5 separate regions of the Homo sapiens genome follow, and all the other regions are reported to be linked to region 1. The links are microRNA targets in miRTarBase. Many come from high-throughput screens and were not tested one by one. Region 1 holds a microRNA gene; each other region holds the end of a gene's coding sequence.
Evidence for each region. The annotated mature microRNA hsa-miR-5580-3p reads CACAUAUGAAGUGAGCCAGCAC and lies in region 1 at 2,988-3,009, shown strand. An mRNA with a match to its seed (bases 2 to 7 or 8) in the 3' UTR can be bound and repressed. Matches are read on the target gene's strand: a 7mer-m8 pairs with bases 2 to 8, a 7mer-A1 pairs with bases 2 to 7 and ends in A, and an 8mer does both.

Region 1 (6,353 bases):
TAATCCACCAGCATCATTACTGTGTTGGAATTTATTTTCCCCTCTGTAACATGATCAACAAGGCATGCTCTGTGTTTCCAAGATCGCTGGGGAAATGTTTAGTAACATACTCAATAGTGGAAGAGGGAGAGGGTGGTTGTCTGCATGTTTCCTCCTGCCTGTGCTCTGTTGGCCCCTCTTTTTCTTTACAACCACTTGTAAAGAAAACTGTGGACACAAAGCCAAGGTGGGGGGTTTAAAAGAGGAGTCTGATTGTGGTGCCATAGAGGAGTTGACACATAGAAATTATTAGACATATCAAGGAGGCTGGATATAGTTTCTGTCTTTGGTGCTTGAGAAATGCTAGCTACATTTTGCTGGTTTGTTAGCTGCCCCACTTATCTGCTCCTTCAAATTAAGGGGTATGCTTATTTTCCCCCAGTAGGTTTCCCCTGCATAAGCAGAATTCACCATTCATTGCCCAACCCTGAGCTATCTCTTGACTCTTCCATCTTTGAAAAAAGTTCATATGCTTTTTCTTTTCCCCTTCCTTCCTAACTGTGCCTAGAACATCTGGAGAACATCCCAGGGACCAGTGAAAACTCTGCTTTTCGTTTCCTCTTTAACCTCAGCAGCATCCCTGAGAACGAGGTGATCTCCTCTGCAGAGCTTCGGCTCTTCCGGGAGCAGGTGGACCAGGGCCCTGATTGGGAAAGGGGCTTCCACCGTATAAACATTTATGAGGTTATGAAGCCCCCAGCAGAAGTGGTGCCTGGGCACCTCATCACACGACTACTGGACACGAGACTGGTCCACCACAATGTGACACGGTGGGAAACTTTTGATGTGAGCCCTGCGGTCCTTCGCTGGACCCGGGAGAAGCAGCCAAACTATGGGCTAGCCATTGAGGTGACTCACCTCCATCAGACTCGGACCCACCAGGGCCAGCATGTCAGGATTAGCCGATCGTTACCTCAAGGGAGTGGGAATTGGGCCCAGCTCCGGCCCCTCCTGGTCACCTTTGGCCATGATGGCCGGGGCCATGCCTTGACCCGACGCCGGAGGGCCAAGCGTAGCCCTAAGCATCACTCACAGCGGGCCAGGAAGAAGAATAAGAACTGCCGGCGCCACTCGCTCTATGTGGACTTCAGCGATGTGGGCTGGAATGACTGGATTGTGGCCCCACCAGGCTACCAGGCCTTCTACTGCCATGGGGACTGCCCCTTTCCACTGGCTGACCACCTCAACTCAACCAACCATGCCATTGTGCAGACCCTGGTCAATTCTGTCAATTCCAGTATCCCCAAAGCCTGTTGTGTGCCCACTGAACTGAGTGCCATCTCCATGCTGTACCTGGATGAGTATGATAAGGTGGTACTGAAAAATTATCAGGAGATGGTAGTAGAGGGATGTGGGTGCCGCTGAGATCAGGCAGTCCTTGAGGATAGACAGATATACACACCACACACACACACCACATACACCACACACACACGTTCCCATCCACTCACCCACACACTACACAGACTGCTTCCTTATAGCTGGACTTTTATTTAAAAAAAAAAAAAAAAAAGGAAAAAATCCCTAAACATTCACCTTGACCTTATTTATGACTTTACGTGCAAATGTTTTGACCATATTGATCATATATTTTGACAAAATATATTTATAACTACGTATTAAAAGAAAAAAATAAAATGAGTCATTATTTTAAAGGTAAATCATGATTTTTTTTTTCTCCTTAATCCTTTCTCTTTTCCTTCGGGCTCATCTCTTTTGAATGAGGCTTTTTTCTGTTCAGGTGAGTTGGAGGCTGGATGGAAGTCAAAAGGTGGTACCTGGAGGTGGTTAAGTTGTAGGGACAGGAAGTAAACTGTTGGCAGAGAGAGATGGTAATTGCCAGCATGAATTGTTTTCTATTTCTATTTAATGTTAACAAGGATGCAGTATCCTCTCCCATCTGGATGACACATGCCTTGGAGAAACACTGGGATGAAAGGAGTGTAGGTCAGATTAAAGACTTCATTTCAGGCCCCTTGTACATCTTCTGTTTCACTCACCTGTTGAGGTGTATCACAGCTGAGCGTGATGAGGTCTCAACCCTAGAAAAATGATACCCACCTCTGCTTTCATGATACCTCAGGGTATCTCCAGTTATTACAGGTACCAATGTGATATTTCCAAATCAAAACTAATTTGTACACTAACATCATAATGTGTGTGTGAAGGCATGTTTTTAAACTTATTTTTTTTTTCTCCAGGTAGGACTCTTTTGTTTTTTCTTTTGTCTTTTTTTTTTTTTGAAACAAGTTCTCTCTTTGTTGCCCCAGGCTGGTCTTGAACTCCTGGGCTCAAGCAATCTTCTCATTTCGGCCTCTTTGGGATTACAGGCATGCACTGCTATTTTGTCTTTTTTTTTTTTTTTTGTAACAAATAATGTACCCTACCTTCAAAAAGTTTGATGACTACTGTTTTAATATGCCACTTGATAGAATTTCCCATTGTTTCTTGACTTTTTCCCTTGTCCTCTTTTCCCAATGTGAAGGCCTTCATCAAGTTTAGGATCCCAACAGATTGGGCTGGGTGGGGGTTGACAATGGGGTCAGATACTAAAGGGTCAGAATTTCTAAGCAGGCACTGTGAAGGTGTCCCACTATTATACAGAAATCTCGAGTCAAATGTCAACTCTCCTTTTCGCTCTGTACTGCCTCCCTCACACCCTCTTCCCTGGACTTGGGCAGAAAGAGGTAGATCTGATGTTCTGTGCTAGGGTTTCTTAAAGGGAAAAGCTCAATTTTTGGACAAAGTTAATAAAAAGGAGGATGCTAATGTACCCTCAGTTAAGGGCTCCCAGCAGGCAGATAAATGCCTTTCTGGAATGACGGGTGTAGGGATTAAGAGGAGCAGAGGAGAGGCCTTTGCTTTTTCTTACTTGCCACCAACAACTAAATTAAGCCTTGAATCTTGGTCTGTGCTGGCTCATTTCATATGTGTGCTGAGAAAATTCACACATATGAAGTGAGCCAGCACAGACCAAGATCCCTTTGGATCCCTTTGGAGCAGAAACATTTAGTGTCTTTGTATGTTCTCTGTGGGGAAGGCTGATAGCGCATTTCTCCATCATGAAGGTGTAGATATGAGCGGTAGTATTGCTGTTGCTGGTGGTGTGTGCACCCAAAGAATGTGTGTGGTGCACACTCCTGGCGTTTGCATTTTTCTAGGTGGGGTGTGCACCCTTGCATTCTTGTACACACTTTCTTACATACGCTCCTGGGAGTGGAGTGGGTGAAGCAGGATTCATTTTTGTTTTTAATTACTGAAGTCCTACACTCCTCCAAAAGGAGCAGCTTAGTGGAAACCAATAAAAATTGAAGCGGGGTGGTTGCCAAAACCCCAGCTCCCCGGAGAGCGCAGGTGGAGAGAAGACATCAGAGCCCCAGGCAAAGGCAGCAAGACTACACAGTTCCTCCAAAACTCCCCGCAAAAAGGGATCCTTCCCCCACCCCTCCAACCCCCCAGGTCGCTGCCCCTTTGATTAATGGTATGGAGCTCAAATAAATCATTTAGGGAAGCCCCTTATAGATTGCCCTCAGGCAGCCTCATTTTGTTTTGCCCAATTTCTAGCAACTTTCTGAAACGTCGATGTCATTGAAAAGGAACCAGTAGATCTCCAGTACTTGAACAAATTATCCTAGGGCCAGTACTGAGCCCTGTGGCTGTCCAGTTCTAGCAACCAGCCCCTTCCTCCATCCTCCCCGCTCCTACTGGCTTATTTTCAGGAATGGATAATGTTGTTTATTTGTTCAGCCAAATATTTGGTCTGGGGAATTTACCGTGAAATTCTGTGAATTGCATATACCTAGTTAACAAAATAGTCCTAATGCCACAAATGTTAGCATGGAAAACAAAGAGCTATGGCCAGCGTTAACTCTTTAAATTCTGTTTGAAAGCTTAGTCCTGAGACCCGGGGAGATTAAAAAAAAAATAAAAAAAATTGGATGTGTGTGATTTAGGTTTCGGCATTTACTATTTTTGCCTAATATTCAGTTCAGTACCTGACGGAAGTCGTAGGGTGATTCTCGGCGTTGCTTTTGGATCAAGCCTACCATTTCACCCCATTCATGTTTTTTTTTTTTTTTTTTCTCCAGAGTAATGTTCCTATTACTGAAAGAAAGATGGGGAGGGAAGCTCGCCCTTGAGGAGTTCGGCAAAGTCGTAACCACATCAGAGGAGCTGCTTGGTCGATCCCTACCCAACCCTTAAACTGGAACCGGCTTCCTAGGAGCTTAAAAAAAAAAAAAAAAGGTTGGGGGGGTGTGGAGTGGGACGCATCAAACATTCCCCTGCTTTCGTTGCATAATTCGCCCAGAACCTGCCAGGTGACCTGCTGACTTTGTTTTCTGTCTTGACCGTGCTTCGTTCCACACCCCCCTCGCCGCCGGGCAGCGCCACACTGAGAGGGCTCGGCGCGTCCGCGGCGCGGGCAGACCCCAGTAGTCACCCGGCCTTGGACTGGCGTCAAGATCCAGCCCCGCCGACCCCGCCTCCCGCCCGCTCTGGAGCTCCCAGGCCCGGCGGCGGCGGGGGCACCAGGGGGCGTCCTCCCTGCGGGGGACCAGGGGGACCGTGCACCTGGCGACGGCCCGCGGGAGCCGCGCGGCAGGCGGCCACCCCTCCCCATCCCCGCCGACCGCGGACTGCGGGTCCCCCAGCCCGGGCCCGAGAGCCGGCCCGCTCATCCGCCCTCGGGGACCCAGGCCTCAGGTGAAGCTCTGCAGACACAGACGGATCTGATTAGCGCTCGCTGGTCCTTGGGGCGGTCGCTCTGCAGATTTCATGCGAAATGGGGTCAAAAGGCCGCGCAGAAGCGTGGAGTCTGCAGGGGAAGGCTCCCCGGGGTGGAGGGGCTTAAGAGGGGTCGAGACCTTTAGGGGTTTTCTGTAGGGGGCAGAGAGCGGGAATTAGGGAGCGAGGCTCTCCTGCCTCCGAGCTCACAGTGGGCCTGCATATGGGGGTGACTCAATGGGAGCGGGGACGTGGGCGAGTGGGAAACAGGCCCGCTGGGTGAGGGTCGGACCTGCAGACTGGCCCTGAAGGCTGAGCCGCTGTCTTGGGCCCCTTGGGGACACGGAGAGCCCTGGGTCCCAGCTGAACTGCAGCCAGGGCCCCGCTCCCCAACAGTCGGGGGACGGAGGTGAACGGGAGAGGCCACGGGTGTGCAAGAGTGGAGCTGGACGATTGCTTTCAGAAATGAGATGCCAAGCCATGATACATAATGACAGCACCTCAGCTGACCTCCGCAGGGCCTCTGGACCGGGGACTCACCGTGCCCGCCCCCACTCCCTCTCCAAAGGTGAGCCAGGAGCATAAAGCTTATCCCAGGCCCAGGTCTCCGAACTATTTGTCATCAAAGATACTTTTGCTTCAACACAAAACCAATTTTACAAACTATTCACATACTCTCTTTTGAAAAGGAAAAGAATAATGCAAATGCAACGTTGGTGACCTTACATTACCTGGGAATCAGAAGGTTATTAGTATTCCCTAGGGGAATTTAGGATAACTGGTGGACTGCCAAATTAGAATTGATGCAAAGTTATTCAGGCTTACCTTGTGATACAAACTAGCACAATTCTGAAAACTATAACTGGAAATTAAATTCAGAGTGGTTAGAAATGTGGTCTAGGTGGGATTGCAAGGATCTCATTTCCCTATGCATTTAGCACCTAATGGCAGAATAAATAAACAGAACTGCAATGCTCACCAGTGGAGAAAAGTGGCTGATTTTAGGAAAAATGTCAAATTGCTCTAATGTTAAAAAAAAAACACACAGAAATTATTTTGAAAAAGGAGTCAAAAGTTCAAGGTGTGCAACTTTGAGTCAATTCTAGAAAAAAATCTAAAATTTTTTTTCAGCTTGGAAGCCATTTGAAATTACCATTCATAAGTCACTTTATTTAAAGCATTAACTGCAGCAAGTTCCAGTTGTTTCTGCTTTCGCTCGCTCTTCAAAATATTCTTTATAAACTAAGTGAAAATATAAAAGTTATAGTATGCTGTTCAGAACAAACAATTCAGAAAATACTGTCGGATTCCAAAATGTTTACCTCAAAAATGTGAAATTTGAGGAAAAGAAGACAAGATGGAAGAATAATTTGCTGCGTTGTGTTACTAATGAGAATTTCTGAAGTCCAGCTTTCAGTCAGTTTTGCCACATTTTCTAAAGAAAAGATCTCATTGATCTTTTAACTTTTTATAGCTTGATTTCTAGCAAAAATATTTTTAAATGACTACAAAGTTCCCTACCCCAAATCCTGGAACCTGGTAGCCTGGTGCAAGTAGATTCTAGTTTTGCAAAATTTCATTACTGTTAC
Region 2 (6,039 bases), not on the chromosome of region 1:
CTTCCATCTCAGCCTCCTGAGTAGCTGAGACTACAGGCACATGCCACCATGCCTGGCTCATTTTTGTAATTTTTGTAAAGACAGGGTTTCACCATGTTGCCCAGGCTGGTCTTGAATTCATGGGCTCAAATGATCCACCCACCTTGGCCTTCCAAACGGCTGGGATTACAGGAATGAGCCACCACACCTGGCTAAAAGGACGTTTTATTTAAGTTTGTTAAACTAATTTAAAATTTTAAAATATTTAGAGATCTAGTATGTTGGCTTCCATTTATATTCTTACTTCAGACACCACAAAAACGTTAGAGATAGGTCTGTTTTGCCTTTGCTTGAATAAACAAGAAAAAAATTGGCTTCCAGAACAAGTAAAAATAATCAAACTCTCTCATTTAACAGGAGAAACAGCCATTAAGAGAAAAGTGAGGTGAATGGAAGCTATGGGAAAGATTAAGTATTGAAATATTTAAAAGGGCCTAAAAGATAAAAGTCACCAAGGAATCACTTTTTCATTAAATTAAAGCTTTGCTAAAGTTAATTTTATTCCCAACCATGATGTTCACTGTGTAAAGGTAACATAATATACTACATAAGGACTCAGAAATAGAAAAATACAACTCAAAAATTTATACCAGACCATTAAGATATGAATCAAATTTAAGAACCAGAAAAAAAAAGGTAGTCACAATTTAAAAGTTCTCTATCATCCACAGTAGATCGCCTCTACAGTGCTTCCATATCAGCTGTTTTCCTTATCTCCAATGACTTTCCCAATACTAATAAATATTTTTTCTTATGTCCCATTCTTCACCTCATGATGAATACACCTCTTGCCTTCATAACTATATAAAACTGGTGCTAGTCTCTCCTGGCACTTAATAACACTGGCTTAACTCTTTACACTTTACCAACCAAGTCAAGAGTAACACATCTGGCCATTATAAATCTCAAGGAATGTAAATAACAACTTTTTGTATCTCTAAAATTAATTAGTAATCTTCCTTCTCCGTAGTCAGATATATCCTTAAAACTCCAATCATTTGACATGAGATGAAAAATCAAAACCCAAACAGAAATACATAAGATAACTAAGGAAAAAGCAAACAACATGAAAAGATGCTCATCATTAATCATTTTAGAAACAAAAATTAAACCATAATGGGACAGGACTCCTCATCCACTAAAGGCTAAAATTAAAACGACAGCTAAAAATACCAAGTACTGGCAAGGATGTGGAATACTCTGACCCCCCCAACACACATTGCTGTTGGGAATGTAAAATTTCAGCAAATTCTGAAAACAGTTTAGCAGTTTCTTATACAAACACACTTACTATAATACAACAACCTTAATCTTAGGTATTTACCCAAGACAAATGAAAACATATAACCACACAAAGACTTATATACATATGTTCATAGCAGCTTTATTCATAACAGCAAAAAAACTGAAAACAACTCAAATGTCCATCAACTGGTAAATGAATTAACAAACTGTGGTATAACTATACAATGCAAATACTACTGAATAGAAGATAAAACAGGAACTACCTACTAATACATGTAACAATATCAGTATCTCAAAAGTATTACATTAAGTGAAAGAAGCTGGACACAAAAGACTGGTTATTTGAAATTCTAGAAAAGGCAAAACGAAAAGTGACAAAACGCAGATCAATGGGTTTCGAGGGGATAGAAGTGGGGGTGAGGGATTGACTACAAAGGGGTAAAAGGGAAATTTTTAGGTGATACAAATGTTCTATATCAGCTGGGTGTGGTGGTTCACGCCTGTAATCCCAGCACTTTGGGAGGCCGAGGCAGGTGGATCATGAGGTCAGGAGTTCGAGACCAGCCTGGCCAACATGGTGAAACCCCATCTCTACTAAAAATACAAAAGTTAGCCGGGCATGGCGGCGCGTGCCTGTAATCCCAGCTACTCAGGAGGCTGAGGCCAGAGAATTGCTTGAACCCGGGCAGACGAAGGTTGCAGTGAGCCGAGATTGCGCCATTGCATTCCAGCCTGGGTGACAGTGCGAAACTCCATCTCTGGGGAAAAAAAAGTTCTGTATCAAGATTGTGGTGGTGGTAATTACACTACTATATGTTTGACAAAATTCACTGAATCATATACTTAAATTGGTTAATTTTATTGTATATAATATCTTAAAATTTATTATATATAAAATAATACCTAAAGTTTATATATATCAAAATGGAACAATGGTAACATGATTTACTTTGCTACATTTCCAAATATTGTCCAGGGAGGATGTATTATTTTAAAATCAGAACAAAAATCCCATTTAAAAGCAATTAGCATATTAAAAATATATAAGTATACATGATCACAATGACTTATAAATAAATACAAACTCAGAGCTAAGAACAGAAGGAAATTTACCACTATTTATTTTGGGTAAAGGAGTACTAAAATTCCTCCTAAAGCTTTTGTATAATTCATAACTTTTAGGGGAGGACTTTGTTTTAAAAATGCAGTAATAGAGAATGCCTTGCAACAATTGGTGTAAGTTTATCTAGAGCTTTTGCCCAAATTAATTAATTGGGAAGGCATCACATGTGCTCACTGTTCAACGATGCTTTTGAAAGATTATTCAGTAGTTTAATTTCTTTTGTTTTTTTCCTGAAAGTTTCTGTTTCAGGTTTTTTTTTTAAGAGTTATTCTCTGCATTACTCAAAATGATGAATCAAACAGATTTTCCTTCTTAATTTAATGTCTTATTCTTTAAAATCCACTAAAGAACAAACAGTTCTTAGACCTGGAATGTATTTTCTACTCAGTAATGCCCTATTTTGTAAACAAAAGAAACAGAATGTAAGTAGCACCTTGGATTAAAATGTCCAACCTAATCAGCTGTGCAGAAGACATAAATTGGAGGTAACAATAACTGCTTTAATCTCTGTGAATGCCTCATCAATTAAATAATTCCTCAGGAACATTTTCCCCATTCATATGGGAATTACATACTGGTTTGCAAACACAGAACCAACTAATAATCTTTTTTACAGAATCTCTAAATCCTTTCTTCCAAGACCATTTTGGCCAACTGACTGGATTTAAACTGGATAATAAAAGTAAGGGAAAAAAAAGCACAAACAGAAACTCTTACAGAGCAAGAAAGACCAGATGGTCACCTCGACGTTAGAGGCAAAACCAGTATGCTCTAATATTGTGACATGACTCTAATGCCAGCATTCAATGACAGACAGATCACTTTTAGAAGAACAGCCAAGATAAAGGATTTGAGACATAACAGGTAACACACATTCCCAGGATTGGGAGCAGTACCTGAACAAGTGCTGTTAATGGATCACTGTAGCATTATCAATACATCCCAGTCATTGTATGATACTATTAACTCTTTCGGTTTCCTTGCATTTATTGGAAGGCACATTAAAATTTGCATTCTTTGGAGTGCAGCAAGATGCTTTTCCTGTTTCTTTCTGCAGCATGTCCAGCACTTTTACACCTTCTGTCAGACAAATAGGTTAAAACTCTTACATTGCAAAATCAAGAGTATAATACTCAGTGATGGATAGTGTATGTTTCTGATTAATACCCTTTTTGCCAAGTTAAAAATACCCTACTAGGGACCGGGTGCAGTGGCTCATACCTGTAATGTCAGCACTTTGGGAAGCCAAGGCGGGCAGACTGCTTGAGCACAGGAGTTTTGAGACCAGCCTGGGCAACATGGTGAAACGGTGTCTCTACAAAAAATACAGAAATTAGCTGGGTGTGGTGATGCATGCCTATAGTCCCAGCTATTTGGGAGGCTGAGGCAGAAGGATCACTTGAACCCAGGAAGTCGAGGCTGCAGTGAACCAAGATCACACCACTGCACTCCAGCCTGGGTGACAGGGCAAGACACTGTCTCCAAAAAACAAAAAACAAAACAAAACAAAACAAAAAACCAACAAAAAACTAACAATATCCTATTAAAAGTGGCTTAAACAATTGAAGGGTTTTTATTATATCAACATAAGTCCACATGTAAAGCAGCTCTAGAATGGGTTAATTCTGAAGCTTACCGGCATTATCAAAGGCTCTGGTGAGTTCTATCTTTCCACTGAGCTAACCTCAGTCTGAGTCCGTGTCTCCTTGTGATCATTAGTTGGCTGCAGCAGTTCCAACTATCAGAGTCAGAAAAGACAATGTCCAGAGAGAGCAGGATTTCCTCCTCTAAGCCTATTAGTGAGTAAAACATTTTTCAGACACCCCCTTGAAGATCACTTCTCAGCTGCCATTCACTAGGACATGTTTATGTACTCATGCCTTATCAATTACTTATAAGGGGGATAAGACCACATGTGATTCATTTAGAACAGCAGGATTCACCCTTAGGGAAAGGGTCCAACATACCTGGACACAGAGCTGCACAGAAGGGAACACCAGAATAAGCAAGCAAGAAGGGAGGGACAAAATAGTTGCTGGCCGGCAACCAACAGTATTTATCACAATCTGATAGGGCTGAAAATGTACAGCATGTGTTGTTACACTATTCCTTGGCGAAGAAGATAAGTAGCAATAAAATAAAAAGTGTAATATAATAGATTGTTAGACATTTACGAAAATATTTCAGGGACAAATAACAACTAAGATTCAGAGAGTACAGGCACTAGCCTATGTGCTTTACATGTATTAATGTACTTCATCCTCACAACTGTTACATGTACAGTTGTCCCTCAGTATCTGTGGGGGACTGGTTTCCAACCCCAACCCCTCAAATACCTAAATCCATGGATGCTCAAGTCTTTTATAATAAAATGGCGTAGTATTTGCATGTTACCTAGGCACAACCTCCCATATTCTTTAAGTCATCTCTAGATTATTTATAATACCTAATACAATGTAAATACTATATAAATAGCTGTTAAACTGTATTGTTTAGGGAATGACAAGGAAAAAAGTCTGCACATGTTCAGTATAGACACAACCATCCTTTTTTTCCCCAAATATCTTCTATCCACAGTTGTTTGAATCCACAGATGTGGAATGCATGGATATGAAGGGCCAACTGTATCTTACAAGATAAGGAAAAAGGAGAGAAGCCAAGACACTGACTAACTGACAGAGCTGAGACTGGAACTGAGGTAATCAGGCTCCAGACCGTGCTCTCAATTGCTGTATTATGAGGCACAGGGTGATATAAAAAGGGCACGTGTTTTAAAAATAGTAAAAATATCAAATGAACCAAGCCATAGGTGAAAATGTAGAAACCAATCCAAGAGGTTGGCTGAGATTTAACATTGTACATTTTATTAAATACTGGACTTTATTACAACAAATTAATTTACTTCCGATAGAAGTTTCATTTTAAAAAATGTGGTTGTGTTCAAATTCTTAATTGACACTTGTTTTGGGGTAAACATCCTATTTTTACTGGTGGTATCATCAATCATTATGAGCAGAAAGATTAATTTTGTATAACAGAACAAAGGAATTTCTCAAGTGGTACAATACTCAATATATATAAAGGGAATATACTCCCAAAGAGTGGGCATGACCACAGCAGAGTATATGATCAGAGAACATATTGCTTTTATGGTATATATATATATATATATATATCTCTACATATAACATCAAGTCATGCACATTAAGTCTTTACTACCTACTGAAGGCTTCTACCTTACACATGAAAATTGTTCATGTCCCAGGGTTTGGCATCCAGCCAAAATTTAAACAATGATGAAGAATGGCTGTCAAACTGGCTTTTCAGACCACCCCTGAAAAGCTGTCAGCTGTAATATCCATCCTGGAATCGTGGCGGAAAGTTCCTGGGAGTTGCCTTTTCCTGTGTTTTGATCAAGTCTATAATAGCTGACAGTACTGCACAGTCTCTGGATTTAGTGTCATTCCAGTCTACAGGATGAGGACTTTCAATCTTCTCTTGCAGAAGAATATCTAGTTCCTTTCTTAATTCCTAAGGTTGGAAAAATTATACATGTTCAACAAAGGCAGATATATTACCAAATAACATAATAAATGAAACTAATTTACCTGATACAAGGAGTTTCACAAGCG
Region 3 (6,353 bases), not on the chromosome of region 1:
CAGACTAGCATCGGCAAAGCAGGGAGACCCCATCTTTACAAAAAAAGTAGCCTGGCATGGTGTTGTGAGCCCATAGTCCCAGCTAAGTAGGGCAGAGGTAGGAGAATCACTTGAGCCCAGGAGTTCCAGGCTGCAGTGAGCCGTGGTCGTGCCACTGGACTCCAGCCTGGGTGAAAGAGCAAGACCCTGTCTCAAAAAGAGAAAGGAAAAAATTTAACATCAAGAACTTCCTTTCATCAAGACACCACTGAGAGAATACGACAACCCACAGAGTAGGAAAAGAGATTTGTAATACACATCTGTAACAATGGACTTCCTCCTAGAATAGAGAGGATAAAAAGTAGCAACACTTCCGCTTGCACCCGGACGGAACTTCCTGTCACGGAAAAGAACATCCTGTCACGGAGAAGAACATCCTGCAGAATTTCCTGTCACGAGGAACATTCCGCAGGAGGAAATGGAGGCTGAAAGGCTGCGACTCCTCGAGGAAGAGGCCAAGCTGAAAAAGGTAGCCAGAATGGGATTTAATGCATCTTCCATGCTCCGAAAAAGCCAGCTAGGTTTCCTCAACGTCACCAGTTACTCCCGTTTAGCCAACGAGCTGCGTGTGAGCTGCATGGAGCGGAAAAAGGTCCAAATTCGGAGCTTGGATCCCTCCTCTTTGGCGAGCGACCGATTTAACTTCATTCTGGCGAGTACCAACAGCGACCAGCTCTTCGTAGTGAACCAGGTCGAAGTCGAAGGCTCCAAGTACGGCATCATCAGCCTGCGAACTCTGAAGATCCCTTCGTTCCACGTGTACGTGCTCAGAAACCTCTACGTCCCCAACCGGAAGGTGAAGTCCCTGTGCTGGGCCTCGCTGAACCAGTTGGACTCTCACGTTCTGCTGTGCTTCGAGGGAATCACAGATGCTCCAAGCTGTGCAGTGCTGCTCCCAGCGTCGCGGTTCTTAAGTGTTCACACAAGAGTTAACCAGCCTGGCATGCTCTGCAGTTTCCAGATCCCAGAGGCCTGGTCCTGTGCGTGGTCCCTCAACACCCGGGCATATCACTGCTTTAGTGCAGGCTTGTCTCAGCAGGTCCTGTTGACCAGCGTGGCGACGGGACACCAGCAGTCATTTGATACCAGCAGTGATGTCTTGGCCCAGCAGTTTGCTAGTACGGCTCCTTTGCTGTTTAATGGCTGTCGCTCCGGGGAGATCTTTGCCATTGATCTGCGTTGTAGAAATCGAGGCAAGGGGTGGAGGGCCACTCGCCTGTTCCATGACTCAGCAGTGACCTCTGTGCAAATCCTCCAAGAAGAGCAATGCCTGATGGCATCAGACATGACTGGAAAGATCAAGCTGTGGGATCTGAGGGCCACTAAATGTGTAAGGCAGTACGAAGGTCACGTGAATGAGTCCGCCTATCTGCCCCTGCATGTGCACGAGGAAGAGGGAATCGTGGTGGCAGTGGGCCAGGACTGCTACACGAGAATCTGGAGCCTCCATGATGCCCACCTGCTCAGAACCATCCCTTCCCCGTACTCTGCCTCCGAGGACGACATTCCCAGCGTGGCCTTCGCTTCTCGGCTCGGGGGCATCCGGGGAGCAGCACCAGGGCTGCTCATGGCTGTCCGGCAGGACCTTTATTGTTTCCCCTTCAGCTAATTCTGCAGGTGGCAGCGCGGCCGAATGTGGATTTGACTTAAGGAAGTTAAGAGTATCTTATTACCGTTTCTGTGAGAGCATTTTAAGAGACGTGTTGTATATAGATCGCATCCATCCGGCTGCCAGGGGTAAGGTGTTAAGAGTTTTATGTGGAGACGTTCTTGTAAAGTTATTTCAGTTAAACTGTGGACTTAACTTGAAAGTCCTTTTCATAAAAGGTACCTGTTTCCTCTTGTTGAATGCCTTAGAACAGTTAACCACCTCCCCAACCCTTTTTTTTTTTAAATAATTAAGACTTTTCTAAGGACTGAAGATTGGCAAAAACTAAAATAAATTAAAGCAGCTTCTTTCACTAGTAGCCCTTTAGAGAAGCATAATGATGGTACTGGTAAGACTGTTTGACTAATCATACAGGGTCCCAGGCATCTGCGCTTGAGGAAGCCAGTGGGAGTGGAGACAAGGGAGAGGTAATTTCTCAGAGTCTCTACAGAAATATTTAAGGCTGGAGTTTGGAATCATTAAATTTGGCCTTCTCAAACTCAATAGCAGATCTCTTAAGGTTCTCCTTTTATTGTTATCATCCATAGGCATTGGAAGGAAAGATGGATCTTTTTAAATACTAGAAGTTTTAAACAGTCCTTGATGTGCTTTTGTTGAGGTACCTTTCAGAATGTAAGGTACAGCAGCTCCGGTTTCTATTATGGTGACTTGAAGTTCAGATTCAAGGAATTGGCTTTGACTTTTTGTAATCTAGGAGCAGCAGTTTGTGAGAGATTTATTAAAAATGTTAAAGAGCCTGTTTTTCTACTAAGCAAGGAAGAAAAAAAACGTGTAATAAGGTTAGTTGCTACTTCTTAATAGCCAAAGCCTGGAAATGATCTGAATTTCGAAAATGCTAAAATTCGTGATATAATCATACAATCGGATACTGCATAATAATAGAAAATAAGGCACACTTGCTATGTGAAACAGTATGGACCAATCTCAACATGTTGACTGAAATTAGGTAGAAATGAGTACAAACTGTATGATTCAATTCTAAAGTTCAAAAGCAGTAAAAACTTGTCTATGGTGATTAAAGGTAGAGTAGTACGTACCTCTGTAGAAAGAAAGGATTTTTTTTTCTTTTTCTTTTTAGGATGTTTGAGAAGTGACATGGGGAAGCTTTAGGAATGCTGAGTTTTCTTTATCTTGACACTTGATACATACGTAATTCATATATCTATATGCTTCACGTTTTTATAGTTTACTGTATATATGTTATTCCTCAAAAAATAAAAATAAGCAATTAGGACACTATTGTAGTTAGGCAAGGGACAATGATGCCTTGGACCTGCATGTGTGAGAAGTAGAAATGATCAGAAATGATTGCATTGGAAGATCATTCGAAGGTAGTATTATTGATAAGGCTTGCTGATGAGAGTAAACTAGAAAGTGAAAGAAAAAAGGATGGCAGCTTTTTTTTTTTTTTTTTTGAGACGGAGTCTCCTTCTGTCGCCCAGGCTGGAGTGCAGTGGCGCGATCTCGGCTCACTGCAAGCTCTGAGGATGGCAGCTTTTTTGTTAACTTTAGAACTGGTAGATGATGGTGTCGTTTACTAACCTGGGGAGGATGAGGAGAAAAAACTTTAGGTGAAGGGAATGATGCTGAGTTTTAGACATCTACTAAACCTCCAATTGGAGATACAAAGTATTCTGCAGATCAGGGGTCATGTCATGGCTGGTAATACAAATTTGGTGACTTCAATACATAGAATTAAAATAGATGGGATAGATGTGCTTTATATGACATAGATGAGGTTAATGTAATTACATATTGATAGAAGATGAGTAGATCAATAGAGAAGATATGGGAGTATGGTTAGGCACAGATTTTTGGAATCCTTTCAGTCAGTTTTTTATACTAACTTGATATGTGACATGAGAAATTGTGTAAGCTTTACTTGCTGTTGTTTCTTCAGTGTAAAATGTCTTAGATAATAAAACTAAATGATAAAGTAGATACAGGGTTAAAGGATATGTATCTTGTCCCTTTTACATTGTAAGCATTCAAAATAAAACAAAACAATTAATGAAGAAAAGACATTGCAATCATTCAGTAAGAACTAGCTGCAGACATATATATGTATATATATATATGTCTGATACTGATATGTCATTTATTTGGCAATTGACAAAAAATGACTACATAACTTGATAAACTGTTTATCCTCATTTGCAAAGAAAACAAATGCAAAAAAAAAATCAGTAAGAAAAACACACCTAAAAGAAAGGGAGGCAATAGTCTTGAATAGGAGAAAAAGAGGAGATCCAAATGGCTAATATACATTTGAAAAGGCATCCAACTTCTTTTATTGTCAAGGAAATGCAAATTAAAACCACAATGCCACACCACTTTCACTATAATGGTTAAAATAAAATAGATCAGGTGGAGTGACGTTGGGAATTAAAAGAGAAGCAAATGTTGGTGCAGTTGTGAGCAAATAGAACTTTCATATACTGTTGAGTGTATACTGGTACAAGCACTTGGAAAAGTTAGTAATTGCTAAAGCTAGAAGTTTGCATACTCTATGACCCAGTCATTTCAGTCCTAGGAATATATTAATCAGAAATGCATACCTGTGTCCACCATAATTTGTTAATAGCTCCAACTGGAAACTACCCAAATGTTCATTAATAGTAGAGTGGATAAATTGTGGGATATTAACACAATGGAATCCTTTTTGCAGTGAGAATGAGCATAGCACTATGGACAAATCCTGCAAACATAATGTTGAAATAAAGATGCCAAACACAAAAGAGCACATATTGTACAACTAATGCACATAAAGTCCCTAAACAGGCAAAATGAATCTATGTTCTTAGAAGCAGGATTAATGGTATACTTGTAGGGCAGAAGAGTAGTGACCAGAAGAAGATTCTAGGAAGCTAGCAATGCTGGTGTCATGCCAGACCCCTAGTGACTCCAATAGTAATGGCACTGTGTCCGAGAGTCCAAAGAAGATGCGTAGACAGCGAACAAGACTTGGGTTTATTGGGGGAACTTATATATAGGGATGGTCCAGTGGTAGTAGGCTGGACAGAAGAACCACTACTGTTTGTAAAAAGCATGCAGTTTATATAGCATTTTCATTTAGCACACTCCACCTAGCAACCTCCATTTAACCCAAAGCAAAGGACCTTGATCCCCTATATTGCCTGTGTTGTAAGGGATGGGCTGGGGGTTCAGACGTCCTTCATAGATAAGGAGTGAAACTCAGGGTTAGTCGCTCCTGTTTCCTTAGTTTGGGATTCTGAGCACACATTCGTTTTAGATCACAGGGTCGTTCTCAGGATATGGTTGTTACTGCTGTCAGGTGCATCCTCTCTATAGCGGGGTACTGGCTACACAGTTTTTGTTCACTAGTGATAATTGTTAGAGCTATGCCCTTAATATATGTCTTGTGTGTATTATACTTCAATAAAAAGTTAAATTTTAAAAAACCTAGTAAGACTTTCTCTTGCTGCCCCCACCTGTGGCTTTGGGGAAGGAATTGACTCTTCACAAATGCTGCCCTCTCTAAAAATATTACACCTCCATGCTCTGTCTCAGCTTAATTCTTCTCAAGGATAAAGGTTATCAAACAGTCAGTCTCTTGCCTCCAGGAGTATTTAATAACTCAATTATTCCAGCTGTAATATGAATCTTGTTCACTACCCTCTAAGGAAAAGTGTGTGTATGTGTAATTTTTTCTCCACCATACCAGGTAAATTGCAGAGAAGGAGCTTTTATTGGAGAAGCTAAGAAGTGTTGAATAAGAGAGCTATGATCCAGGAATACAGTTATCATTGGAGAAATCATTCTCCTTTTCTTGGATGGAAGTGGCAAAGAGTGAACGTAAGTTTAATGGTAGTGGACTACTAAATGGCTATTTGACAAGATAATTGTGACAAAAAAAATCCCACAAGTAATTTCATAGGATAATGTCAGAGGGAAAACCTGTAAGAACAAGCCACTCCTTCCTTCTCTCCTCCTCTGCAATGCTCACTCAACCATGTAAACTGATTTGGAGTTAGAGGACCTGAGTCTGATTCCATCTTCTGTGACATTCTTGCTAAGTGAACTGTAGAAAAAACCTTTCACCTCTCTGAAAAATGGAGACGAGGATTAGCAACCTGGTCAGACCTGGTCAGAAACCACATCAAGTGCATGTTTCATTTCTTTTGCATGTTTGCCTTTACAGGCCAAATGTGTCTGTGCAGACCCTTATTGCTTCTGACCATTGTTGTACAGGAGAGGGGGTGTGACCAGGTAATTCTTTTTACCCATGTATAAGCCAGTTTTGTTTTCTGTTTGTTTTTTTTTGGTACAGATGGGATCTTATCGTGTTGCCCAGGCTGGTCTTGAACTTCTGGCCTCTTGCCTTAACCTCCCAAAGTGCTGGCATTACAGGCATGAGCCACTAGCACCTGGCTATAAGCCATTTTCTTTCTTGCTTCTTTTTTTTTCAAGACAGAGTCTCACTTTGTTGCCCAGGTTGTAGTGCAGTGGTATAATCTCGTTTCGCTGCAACCCCCACTTTCTGGGTTCAAGTGATTCTTATTCCTCAGCCTCCCGAGTAGCTGGGATTACAGGTGTGCACCACCACTCTCAGTTAATTTTTGTATTTTTAGTAGAGAAAAAGTTTTGCCATGTTGGCCAGGCTGGGCCATTTTCTTATTGAAGT
Region 4 (6,353 bases), not on the chromosome of region 1:
GAAGTACAGTTTTTGTTTTTGAAATTTCATTGGTTAAGATCAGGCTGAAATTTTAGAGATTAAGCCTAAATAAATTAGTTCATATATACATATATATATATATATATATACATATATATATTTTTTTTTTTTTTTTTTTTTTTTGAGATGGAGTCTCGCTCTGTCGCCCAGGCTGGAGTGCAGTGGTGTGATCTCGACTCACTGCAACCTCCACCTCCCAGGTTCAAGCGATTCTCCTGCCTCAGTCTCCTGAGTAGCTGGGGTTACAGGCGAGCCCCACCACACCCAGCTAATTTTTGTATTTTTAGTAGAGACGGGGTTTCACCATGTTGGTCAGGCTGGTCTCAAACTCCTGACCTCATGATCCACCCGCCTTGGCCTCCCAAAGTGCTGGGATTACAGGTGTGAGCCACCGCACCCGGCCTTAGTTCAAATATTTTTTATTCAAATGTAAAATATGTCTATAACTCAAAGGATAAATGCTTGAGGGAATGGATACCCCATTCTCCATGATCCGCTTATTTCACATTGCATACCTGTATCAAAACATCTCATGCACTCCATAAATATATACACCTACATGTACCCACAATTTTTAAAAATGTAAAAATAGTAATTTTTGCTTATACTAAAGCATAAATTGAAAGAGCAAAGAAAACTGGAAAGCTCATTTGTATTTATTATAAATGTATCAATTCACTAAAATCTCTATGGACAAGTAAAATATAAGAATGCCAATAGCAGATGGGTTAAAATTCTCTTTAAAAGAGAAATAAATTGCAGATTCTACTAAGGAATTGCTAATCTAAAAAAAAATCTACAAGTGCCAGGCACGGTGGCTCATGCCTGTAATCCCAGCACTTTAGGAGGCTGAGGCGGGCGGATCACCTCAGGTTGGGAGTTCGAGACCAGCCTGATCAACATGGAGAAACCCCGTCTCTACTAAAAATACTATATTAGCCGGGTGTGGTGGCACATGCCTATAATCCCAGCTACTCAGGAGGCTGAGTCAGGAGAATTGCTTGAACCCGGGAGTCGGAGATTGCAGTGAGCTGATATCATGCCATTGCACTCCAGCCTGGGCAAAAAGAGCGAAACTCTGTCTCAAAAAAAAAAAAAAAAAAAAATCTACAAGCTAGAAGAAAATATAATGTATTAGAATATCAAGGTCTTTCCCCACAAGCCTCACATTTATTTTTGCTAAACTAAACTGAGACAAAAGTAATCTACATTACAATTTGAGATAGTGATTTCTGTTGATAAGCCACAAAAATGTTCAAAGGGATTTTCTAACTTTTTTTTTTTTGCATCAAGAATTAATAAATACAGTGTATCATTATTTTAAAGACATGTTTAGGGAAAAAACCAGCTTCTCTTCCCCTTAAAGTTATTGGTGGTGGGAGGGCAAGAGAGGAAGAGATGGCAGCTTTTTAAGTGAAATTTTAATCTTATCTATCTTTTGTTCATTTTGAGTCCCCAAATAAAATATTTCTGTACTTTAATTTCTTAATCACTATTGTCAGCTTGGTTGCTACACATTTAATTACAATATAAAGTTGACATTGAGGATGAAGAAACTTAATTATACTTTTTCTTATTTCTATTTAACCAATAAGATTTTAATAGCAAATTAGAACAAGATTTTACCTCCTTAATAACTAATGGTTAGATAAAGTAGAATTTGTATCAAGTAACTCGGATTTCAGATTTCTGGATGTACCAGTTACTATGCTACTGAGGAGATACATCTAGTTGATGAAGTTAAAATATTAATTACTACTCCAGTTATATGAAACCAAATTATTTTGAGAAATTATCTTATTTTGCCAGGCGCGGTGGCTCATGCCTGCAATCCCAGCACTTGGGGAGTCTGAGGCGGGCAGATCATGAGGTCAGGAGCTCAAGACCAGCCTGACCAACAAGGTGAAACCCCGTCTCTACTAAAAATACAAAAATTAGCCAGGTGTGGTGGCACGCACCTGTAATCCCGTCTACTTGGGAGGCTGAGGCAGGAAAATTGCTTGAACCAGGAGGCAGAGGTTGTAGTGAGCCAAGATCTTGCTACTGCACTCCAGCCTGGGTGACAGAGGGAGACTCCATTTCCAAAAAAAAAAAAAAGAAATTAATTATCTCATTTCGATGTAGTAAAAAAAAAATTTTCTTTAACATTCTTCATAAAATGTGATTAAGGCTATTAAATATAAAGCTTGGATGAGGGTGCAGATAATTTTACAAAACAGCTGTATTTTGGCAAATATTTTATTATTATAAATGAAAATACAGAGTTTTAAAACGGCACTTAATCTGTTCTCTCTCTCAGAGTCTGCCAAATAAATCAGATTTCTTGGAAAATATTCAAACTTGATACAATGGAGGCAAAATTAACTCTTGTCAGGTAAGTCATTTGCCATAAACGAAAGGACCCATAACTGCATTAAGCAGAGAGGGACTGACTGTCAATGAAGCTTCTCTATTTGCAATTTATTCAGCAAAAGCGAACAATTTTTAAAAAGTCTCTAATGCAAAATTTAGTTCAAGTATCAAAGGTCTGATCAATTTTAAAAGGCATTAGTTTTATTTTTAATAAATTGAACTGGCCTTAGATGAAAGATATAGTTCTGTTCACATATTTTATACATTATTTACAGAGAAATGAAAAATCCTGCTGCCTTTGTTATCACTTGTCATTTGCGAAATTCTTACTAAAATAAAAGAAAATGGAAAGATAATTTGACCTCTGACTTCCAGGAGAATGTTCAGGCCACATCTAAAATTTACCAAAGAATGGGGAAAAAACTTTTTTCAAGTTGGAAGGTACCAGAGTGATTAGCTGGTCTAACCTACTCATTTTACAGATTAGAAAACTGAGATATGGCCGGGCGCGGTGGCTCACGCCTGTAATCCCAGCACTTTGGGAGGCCGAGGCGGGCGGATCACGAGGTCAGGAGATCGAGACCATCCCGGCTAAAACGGTGAAACCCCGTCTCTACTAAAACTACAAAAAATAGCCGGGCGTAGTGGCGGGCGCCTGTAGTCCTAGCTACTTGGGAGGCTGAGGCAGGAGAATGGCGTGAACCCGGGAGGCGGAGCTTGCAGTGAGCCGAGATCCCGCCACTGCACTCCAGCCTGGGCGACAGAGCGAGACTCCGTCTCAAAAAAAAAAAAAAAAAAAAAAAGAAAACTGAGATACAAGGTCTTGAGATGCGGCAAATTACTCAACTCTTCCTTGTATTGTAATTAAACTGAGACTAACACCAAGTCTCTTGCTGTTGTTGCCAATTCTTTTCTCTGAACCGCACTTTGTACATCCTCCACCAAGATTAAGAATCATTACCTATGGGAAAAGGGGTGGGCATCAGGAAGAAAAAAAGATAACGGGTGGGAGTGGGGGAATGTGGGATAATGTTAGGAATGCTGTATTCAACGATGAGCCATATGTATTAATACATAATTTCTTAAGAAAAATAATTTTTTTAAAAAATCAAACCTTAACATTAACAGAACCAAATTGCAAAGATCAGAAATACCAAAGTGAAACTGAATGTTAGTACTGAAATTTAAGCTACATTTAAAAAAAAAAGGCTGTCAAACCAATGAAAACTAGATTTCAGTGTCTGTCTCCTTTTAGTGACTAGTTCTATATATTATGTTTCTCTATATCTGGAAAAATGTTCTTAATATAATACACGTGCAGTCTGAAGTAATTTCAGTTCTCAAGTTTATGAAAGGATTGGGTTTAAAAAAATACTACAAAAATATGCACTTATATTTCCAAAATTATGTATTTCTAACCTCTGCAGTGATATAAGGTCCAAATTTTCACCGTTGAACCGCCTTCTTGCATGGTGTTAAACAGTTATTTCTACAGAGCAGATATAATTTGCATAAATCTTTTTTTTTGGGATGGAGTCTCACTCTGTCGCCCAGGCTGGAGTGCAGTGGCGTGATCTTGGCTCACTGCAAGCTCCACTTCCCGGGTTCACGCCATTCTCCTGTCTCAGCCTTCCCAGTAGCTGGGACTACAGGCACCCTCCACCACGCCCAGCTAATTTTTGGTATTTTTAGTAGAGAGGGGTTTCACCGTGTTAGCCAGGATGGTCTCGATCTCCTGACCTCGTGATCCGCCCGCCTTGGCCTCCCAAAGTGTTGGGATTACAGGCGTGAGCCACCGCGCCTGGCCAATTTGCATAATTCTTTACAGTAAAACCCATTCAGAAATAGTAACTACTTGTATCTACCATCAGAGCTGAAAGAAACAGATTTCGTTAAAAAAAAGTATAGGGGTGGGTCAAGGCATTTTTTTTTAGAAAAATATACTGTATATAGTACATCTCGGAAACTACACAGACCATATGTTTTATTTAATGTGAAGGCACAACTTTAACATTAAAAGCAAAGCGTTTTAGTTATTTATGATGTAACTGTCAGTACCAGCTCATAAAAATATATTTTTGCAAGCATATCATTGAAGACTCTTTCAGATTGTCAATTCAAAAGTCAATTTAAAAAGTCGAAGTCTATTTGTAGAAAATCAATGACACATTATAGCAGTTCCACATAATATTATTGCTGGACAATCTGTTCACCAGATATCACAGGGTTTTCTTCATTTGTTGCACAATCCAAATGGTCCATCATCTAGGCATAAATAAAAGACGTTAGGAAATGCAAAATTTCAACTTGCCCCCAATATTCACTACATTAGCAAAAGGATTCTTTTTCTAAAAAACACAGATTGCTCTATGAAACTGAGCACTCCTTCTGGAGCACTGTTCTGGTTCAACATCCACACTTCTAAGGAGATAGTCAGGGTGACACTGAACCTCTCAGGAAGCCTAATCACATGACTCAAAGCCAATTTGTGTTCTCTGGATCTTCCGTTATCTCCATTTCCCAATATGAATACTGCCCTTCATGGCAGTGAGAACTCCAGAACAAAAGGAAGATATTCCTGACACTTATTCCAGGACACTATTCCAGGCAGTGTCCAATCATACAAATGGGAAAACTAAAAATGGCCTCATGAGTCACTGTGAGAATACCTGCTGACTCTGGGACAGTGTGATATTATTGACACCTTGAAATAACCGTAAGATAATTTAAACTTTGGAAACATTATAATAATTTCTACAAAAAATGAACTTGAGGTCATATGATATCTGAAAACAAAACCAAGAATACATTTGCTAGGCCGGGCGCAGTGGCTCACACCTGTAATCCCAGCACCTTGGGAGGCTGAGATGGGCAGATCATGAGGTCAGGAGTTCGAGACCAGCCTGGCCAAGATGGTGAAACCCCGTCTCTAATAAAAATACAAAAATTAGCTGGGCGTAGTGGCGGGCGCCTGTAGTTCCAGCTACTCGGGAGGCTGAGGCAGGAGAATTGCTTGAACCCAGGAGGCGGAGGTTGCAGTGAGCCGAGATCACGCCACTGCACTCTAGCCTGGCAACAGAGTGAGACTCTGTCAAAAAAAAAAAAAAATACATTTGCTATAGACTATTTTAAAGAAATTATCAGCTGGGCACGGTGGCTCATGCCTGTAATCCCAGCACTTTGGGAGGCCGAAGTGGGTGGATCACGAGATCAGGAGATCCAGATGGTCCTGGCTAACACAGTGAAACCCCGTTTCTACAAAAAAATACAAAAAAAAATTAGCCAGGCGTGGTGGCAAGCGCCTGTAGTCCCAGCTAATTGGGAGGTTGAGGCAGGAGAATGGTATGAACCCAGAAGGCAGAGCTTGCAGTGAGCCGAGATCGTGCTACTGCGCTCCAGCCTGGGTGACAGAGCGAGACTCCGACCAAAAAAAAAAAAAGAAATTACCAGTTAAACTTTTCTCAAATGGTCACTTCAGCTCTGCCTATATTCTCATAAAAAATTGTCTTATATTTGGAAATGAAGGATGAAGAAACTGTTTAAATGCTTTCAGTGTTTCAGCAACTCAAATACAATTACTAAAAATAGAAAAAAGTATTTAATGCCTTTGTGAAGACTGTTAAAGACTTTTAGACTAGTGATTAAATTTCAGTATTGCGATGCACTTTTTTCCTTTCCTTCATCAAGAATTAGAAGAAGGAAAGATCAGCAAGATAAATGTTCCTATTTTTGAAAAGTGGTTCTGAAGGCTTTAGTGTTTTTTGGAAGAAGAACAAGAGGGTGGAATCATCTTGAAACAGGGTCTCTTGACTTGCCAGGCAGAAAGAATACAACGTGAGCTAAGGCTTTTGGCTGACAACTGTCTCAACTAATGGAGACAGCTTACAAAATCAAAACCTGGGCCGGGCGCGGTGGCTCACGCCTGTAATCTCAGCACTTTGGGAGGCCGATGCAGGTGGATCACGAGGTCAGGAGTTCGG
Region 5 (6,353 bases), not on the chromosome of region 1:
AACAGTGAGTGGCTGGTGAATTAGATCAGATTCAAACTAAGCCATTCCTTGATGCTATTCTTCACTGCTGTTCCTTAGGGTATCTAAATGTGTTATTTATAAACATTTTTGGGGGCTCCTGCCTGCAAACTTCGGTAGGTGTTGGTCTTCCCCACCTCTACAACTGAGCCAAGGACTTGTTCTGAAAGGTGAGTAATAAATAAGGGAACAAGGTTTCTATTTTCTGTGTTTGTAATTACCAGATTTTCACCTCTGTTTATATATTATTCTGATGTAAAAGAACCTCATAGTTATATAAAATTAGACCTTTTGTAAATAAATATAATTTATTAGAAAAAATGGTATCTTTTACTAAATTGGATTTGTGTCAGTTTTTTCCTTTAAGCACCACTCAGGCAGCAAGCTCTATGCTGTGAGAGTTGCTGGAGGCCCACGTTATGTTTTCTCAGTGTAATTCCTCTTTTTCTTGATAAAAAGACTTAAAAAAAAAAAAAAAACCCATCACTGATTTCACGTACATGTTTGTTTCTTCAGATTTTTCTTGGGCATAGATGGGCTGTTAGTTTAAAAAGAAATGGAAAACAAATCCTTTTGATGAAATCTGATAAATTCATCTTTGGAGACATTTCTGATAAAAATTAGGAAATATATTAGGGTTAAGAAGAGTTATCAAACATTAAATAGGTATGTGTGGCTGGGCACAATGGTTTGTGCCTGTAATCCCAACACTTGGGGAGGATGAGGCAGGCAGATCACTTGAGCTCAGGAGTTTGAGACCAGCCTGGGCAACACGGCAAAACCCTATTTCTAGAAAAATTAGCCAGGTGTGGTTGTGCGTATCTACAGTCCCAGCTACTCGGGAGGCTGAAGTGGGAGGATGGCTTGAGCCCAAGAGGCAGAGGTTGCCCTGAGCCGAGATTGTACCACTGCATTCCATCCTAGGTGATAGAGCCAGACCTTGTCTAACAAACAAAATGTGGATTATGGAGCGAGTATAAGAAATGTATCATCTATTTATTTTCCAGTGTAAAATCACCTTATTCTACAGAGAAGATTCCAGTATGTTGAACCAAAGCAGAGTCAGTGATGGGTATCAAGCCCTATTCTATTGAGAGCAGAGTTGAGTCAGGATGGCCACTGGGCACTGCAGTGAATTTCAGTGTTAGATGATGGGGAGTGGGGAACGTGAGTATTTAATTCAAAGTCATTGGTAAATACCTTTTAAAAGAAAGATGAATGTTACTCTATCTGCCTCATTTGAACTTAACTGCTGTAGTTGAGTTTGAAAACATTCTGAATTTGTGGAATATTAAAAGATTTTTCTTTTACCATTAGGCACCAGTCTGATGGTAAAACAAAAGTAGAGATCCTTACTGATCGCAAGACTTTTTCTCTCATAAAATAAAGCTTCTAACACATTGTATAACTGGTTTAGTGGAAAGTGCACTGAATTGCGAACAAAAGACCTAAGGCTTTATTATAGGCATTTATTAGATTGCACCCTGGGCAAGTCAGTTTGCTGAGTCAGTTTCCCAATGTGCACAACAGTGTTAAATACCTCACAGGCTTCTTGTGAGGAATAAAGATTATTGCCTTTAATCTGTAAGCAGTTGTGTGTGACAAATGCAAAGTACGCTGTGGTAGTTGTGACAATAATTATATAAATTATAATTCCTTAAATGACTATAATATATATGCCTCTAAATTTAAGCCACTTGAAAGGTATTCTAAAATTTAAAATTTTTCTTGTTTCCATAAAAAGAACATATGAAATGTTACACATAAACTTTTGATGACTGGGAGTTTTATTACAACTGTTTGTGCAATGGGGGCCAAACTGCTTGTTTGCCTTGCCAACTGGTATGGTTATTGGGTGCAGGGTTAACTATGCAGTTAATATATAGCCTATTATCTTTATTTGTACAACATCCTAATTGTAACATTTGGTGGGGCTGCTGGGGGCGTTGTGGCATTTCACCAAACAAAGGTGCTGTTTACCTAGAAGGTGTATGTTTATAAATGCAATTTTGGAGATGTAGTCTCACTTCCAAGATCCATTGTCTATGTTTTATATAGCAAGCGGTCAAGAGTTCACATAGGGAGGAATCCTTCCTGACGTTTACCAAGTATATTTGGATTCTGAGTTCAAATAGCAAGATATATTTGTTTCTAGAAGGTAAGTCTACATAATATTGCTAAAACCCCCTAAATTGTACCATTGAAAGATTACAACATATTACAGAATAGTAGTGTAAATAGTTTATTATTTGCTCATATGCCATGAAAAGACCAGAAAAGTAACATGAATTGCTTTTATAAAACATTCTAATATTGCTAAGAAGCAGGCCCATTAATAGACAAACAGAAAAGAACATGCCAACGTTGTCTATTTGTAGATTAATAAATAGGCAATTATTTTAATATACATATATGTCAGCATTGAACTTTGGAAAACAGCTGCTTTGTAGTGGAAGTCCAACTTGGTCAAATTGCTATTTTTAATCGAAGTGAATGTTGAGTCCACAGAAAGACAAAATCGTGGCATGTTCTTTTTAAAGTAAAGTACACATTTATGGGAATGTGCCCGCAGGTGGCAGTTTAATCTTTCTGTAAATAGGTACACTAAAGTGAAATGTGGTAGGTAACTTGTTCCCTAAACTGTCCTTATAGTTAAATATATATATTAAAAAAAACTATAAGTTAAAATAACATTCAGATTGTATAGCATAGGCTGATGCATTTTAAAACAATATTTACAATATTACCCAGAGGCTTAGGTGGGAATTAAAGAGAAGTGTAAAAACCATAAAAAACTGCACCGATTTTATAGCAAAATATCTGTACATTTAAAAAGATCATATAACTACACATCCAAGGAAAAGGGACCTTCACCAAGGGGTTCACATAAGCACAACATAAAATAGGAACTTCAGCGGTTAAATACTATACAATAAACTTTACAATTAATATATTGATGTACCAAGAAGATAAGCCAGAAGCAGAATGTATATTATGAAAAGTACAAATTTAGCTTCAGTCCAGTTTTTGACTTTGGAATGGATCAAGTGCCCTGCCAGAGAGGAAGGAAAATAACAGTGGCTTAGTGGGCCATCTAGTCCCATTACGTATTATTTAAGCTTAATACCATGTTAATACTTTTCAGCAACTTAAACTGCAATTCTCCATAAGTAGTCTGGGAAATGCATGAAAAACTTAGCCTCGATACACGATGCCAAGTGTATCTTCTTGAATTTATAAAAAATAAGAAAAAATTGCGATTGTCAGAGGAGAGTAAGGCCAGGTTCCTAACACTACTCTGCTAGCAGATGTAACCTTGAATGCTTGTTGATAGAGCTAGTAAACTTCCTTGCAAGGCACCAATTTCTGTTCTCAGAATTAATAATGGTCCTCAGAAATGCTAATGCTGATTACTGAGATGTTAATTTTAATGCTAATAAATACACTTGCATTATTTAAAAAGCTGCCTCTAGCTGAAGAACACAGTACTGCAAATAAGTCTTATACACTATATCCCCACATTCATACTAGTGAATGCCTCTCACAGAGCATCGTTCTCTAGCGCAGAAGTAGTAGAATGTGAAACTGGAAACAAAGGATTGAGTGACCTTTGTGCCACTGCAGTTGCATCCTGTTTGCACTTTGCCAGGGCCTGGTTATAGACAAAAGGAGTTTCATCATGTGACTTTCCTTCTTCCAAATTGCAAGTAAAATACAAAGTTGATGGATATGGCTAAAACAAAATTCCTTCGAAGACATCTCAGCAAAGGACCCACAGCAGATGCATTGATGTTATTTACAACATCAGGAAACCAGGTGGGCCATGATGGGACAATCACAATGGCAGGTAATGAGTTTAATAAGAACTTTACATTTTGGTTAAAAATAACATACTGGTGTAAAAAGATACCTAATCAAATCAAATCCTATTGCTTTGATTAATCTGAACAGGTACTTCCATTTTTAGGCACTTGTTAACAAGGGTTGAAAGGAGAGCTCATTTTAAAATTCTTCCGTGTTTGCTAAATCTGAGCCCTTAAGAATATTTTTGTGTGTGTTCAAGGCTGCAGTTAAATCGTAGCACATAAAGTTCATGTGGGCAGTTTCATTCACGCACACCCTGTATTCATGCAGGCCAGTCTCAGGTTCACATTGTTATTTCGGCACCATTAACAGAACGCAAGTTCTGATCATCAAAGCGCCGCCTGACGCTTCTCCTCACCGCATCGGCTCGTCTGTATGGTTGGTTTCTAAGATCTGTAAAGGGGAGAGTGCCAGTGAGAGAATAGCAACCTTTAATAGCATGTGTCTAAGCAGGACAAAGGCCAGCTGGCAGCCAATCAAAGCAGCTTGTGTAGAAAAGTCAGCTAATGGGCCCTTCAAACTCACTGAGCATTGAATCAAAGACATAAAACATTTGCCTTCAATATTTACAATCAAACAAAACAGGATGTAATACTGGTAGGATTCTAGGACTTTGAGAGAAAAATACATAGATTATTTCTGTCACTGGCCAGAGTCTAGCTGAAGTCTTATTTTGAAATGTTTCTTAAATTAGAAGCAGCTGTAGCTTAATTTTTTTGTTTTGTTTTTATTCTGGAAGCCTGAATGAATAAATAGTAACTGCAATAAATTTTAAACTGCAAAATTAATAAAGCAGACTGTCCTGTCCCATCTTTTCCTCGCAGTTTTAACAAGAACCTAAAGACCTTCAGTTTGCAGATAAGGGCTCTATTATTTTCATTCCATTAAGCTAGCTGAGTTTATTATTTTGTAAATTTTAAACAAAATGATGTTCAATTAACCATTAAATCTAAACCAAAATAATAATCTATTCCCTGGCATCCTTTTCTGCCACCTATTTTTTTTAAGAAATGGGGTCTTGTTATGTTGTCCAGGCCAGACTTGAACCAGTCTCAAGCGATTCTCCCACCTCAGCCTCCTGAGAAGTGGGGACTACCGAGCTCTACCACCCAATATTTTTTATGTTACGTCAGCAAGAAGTAGTTGTGTGGGCCCTCCTGCATAAGAAAATCCTTGTTAAATGAATGAGTCAATCACTGCATACCAGTCCAAATAGGCATTGCTCTGTCAGGATGAAGTGGGAGGAGCAGAGGAATTTTATACAAGAACTCAGTATGAAGGCATGCTTTCTTGAGTAAGTCAGGTAGCTAGCCAGCAGGCTAGGCTATGCAGCCTCCCTTTGATGAAGTCAGGGCATAGTGAAAAAAGTAAAGCAGGCTTTATACTTTTCCTGTTTAATTAGTATTTACTTCCCTTTCATTAACTTAGTATTGTTGACTTCTGCTAGAATACATGCTATCTTTAGAAAGGGAAATACAAACAAATAACAGAATTAAACCAAATTGAATCTTTTGTATCCCTTTATCTACTCAACAAGTTGAAAATGCAGCTGATGGACCACATTTGACCCACAGAATGTTTGCTCCACTGTGCCCCCCCACCCCCCGCACATGTACAGTTTCCTGGTGTTTAAATTGGTAATTAACATAAAGACCAGGGTTTCTGGCTTCTTTTGAAAAACTGGAAGATCTGGCAAAACCGGGCCCCAGTTCCTACACAGCAAAAAGAAGTTGGAGCTAAGATCTGTGCTCTAGGTTCAGCACAGTTCCTACCAGGCCTGTTACCTTCCTGGCTCCTTGACTCATTGGAATTTGTGTGACCCTGCCCTACTCTTTTCTGGGGGGGTGGGCGGGGGTTGTGAGGGGAGGACAGTCTCTGTCACTGAGGCTCGAGTGTAGTGGTGATCTCTGCTCACTGCAGCATCCACCTCCTGGGCTCAAGGGATCCACACATCTCAGCGTCCCAGGTAGCTGGGCTACAGGCATTTGCCACCATGCCTGGCTAACTTTGTTTGTTTGTTTTTTTTTTTTTGTAGAGATGGGGATTTTGCTTCATTGCCCAGGGTGATCTTGAACTCAACAGATTTGCCCACCTCGGCCTCCCAGAGTGCTGGGATTACAGATTACAGGTGTGAGCCACTATGCCCAGCCTCTACTCTTAAATTTAAGGAAAAAATAGTTTTGCATACCCCAATCCTCTCAAGCCTCTGCTTCCTAGCCCACACTGGTAATGAAAGGCCAGAATTACACTTTTGCCTCATATGCAGCTTTGTGGTTCTTCATCCTCTGAGCAATTAGTTCTAAAGATCTTAATCCTTCAAAGGCTGTAATGTTACCTGGCCAGGACCTGCTTTCAGTCGCTTCAGATCAAAATGGGTTTAACTGAGTAACTCAAAGGCCAAGACAGGGGTAAGGGAAGGACAGCCCAACACTCAAAGCAAATACAATCATCAGCAAATACCCTTGCCCAAG

Region 2: miRTarBase lists DHX36 as a target of hsa-miR-5580-3p. Seed matches in the 3' UTR shown: 7mer-A1 at 5,587-5,593.
Region 3: miRTarBase lists DCAF4L1 as a target of hsa-miR-5580-3p. Seed matches in the 3' UTR shown: 7mer-A1 at 3,664-3,670 and 7mer-A1 at 3,769-3,775.
Region 4: miRTarBase lists SPPL2A as a target of hsa-miR-5580-3p. Seed matches in the 3' UTR shown: 7mer-A1 at 109-115 and 7mer-A1 at 87-93.
Region 5: miRTarBase lists FMNL2 as a target of hsa-miR-5580-3p. Seed matches in the 3' UTR shown: 7mer-A1 at 2,424-2,430.

Annotation. Positions count from the first base shown.
Region 1 is chr14:53,945,083-53,951,435 of GRCh38, reverse strand. It overlaps MIR5580 (microRNA 5580), which reads left to right and starts at 2,952; the gene lies at 2,952-3,009. BMP4 (bone morphogenetic protein 4) reads left to right here. Exons shown (of 4, transcript NM_001202.6): 4 at 548-1,700. The coding sequence ends at 1,404. RefSeq lists a silencer at 4,537-4,586 and enhancers at 4,557-5,087, 5,088-5,620, 5,961-6,353.
Region 2 is chr3:154,270,419-154,276,457 of GRCh38, forward strand. It overlaps DHX36 (DEAH-box helicase 36), which reads right to left. Exons shown (of 25, transcript NM_020865.3): 25 at 2,128-5,938. The coding sequence ends at 5,753. Among named protein-coding and RNA genes, the nearest start is that of DHX36, 51 kb to the right of the region's middle.
Region 3 is chr4:41,981,336-41,987,688 of GRCh38, forward strand. DCAF4L1 (DDB1 and CUL4 associated factor 4 like 1) reads left to right here and starts at 421. Exons shown (of 1, transcript NM_001029955.4): 1 at 421-5,130. The coding sequence starts at 458. The coding sequence ends at 1,648. RefSeq lists enhancers at 152-1,351, 911-1,683.
Region 4 is chr15:50,703,237-50,709,589 of GRCh38, forward strand. SPPL2A (signal peptide peptidase like 2A) reads right to left here. Exons shown (of 15, transcript NM_032802.4): 15 at 1-4,638. The coding sequence ends at 4,564. Among named protein-coding and RNA genes, the nearest start is that of TRPM7, 20 kb to the left of the region's middle.
Region 5 is chr2:152,645,718-152,652,070 of GRCh38, reverse strand. FMNL2 (formin like 2) reads right to left here. Exons shown (of 26, transcript NM_052905.4): 26 at 2,245-4,275. The coding sequence ends at 4,166. It overlaps PRPF40A (pre-mRNA processing factor 40A), which reads left to right. Exons shown (of 26, transcript NM_001365597.4): 26 at 1-339. Among named protein-coding and RNA genes, the nearest start is that of PRPF40A, 69 kb to the left of the region's middle. RefSeq lists enhancers at 1-158, 5,260-6,353.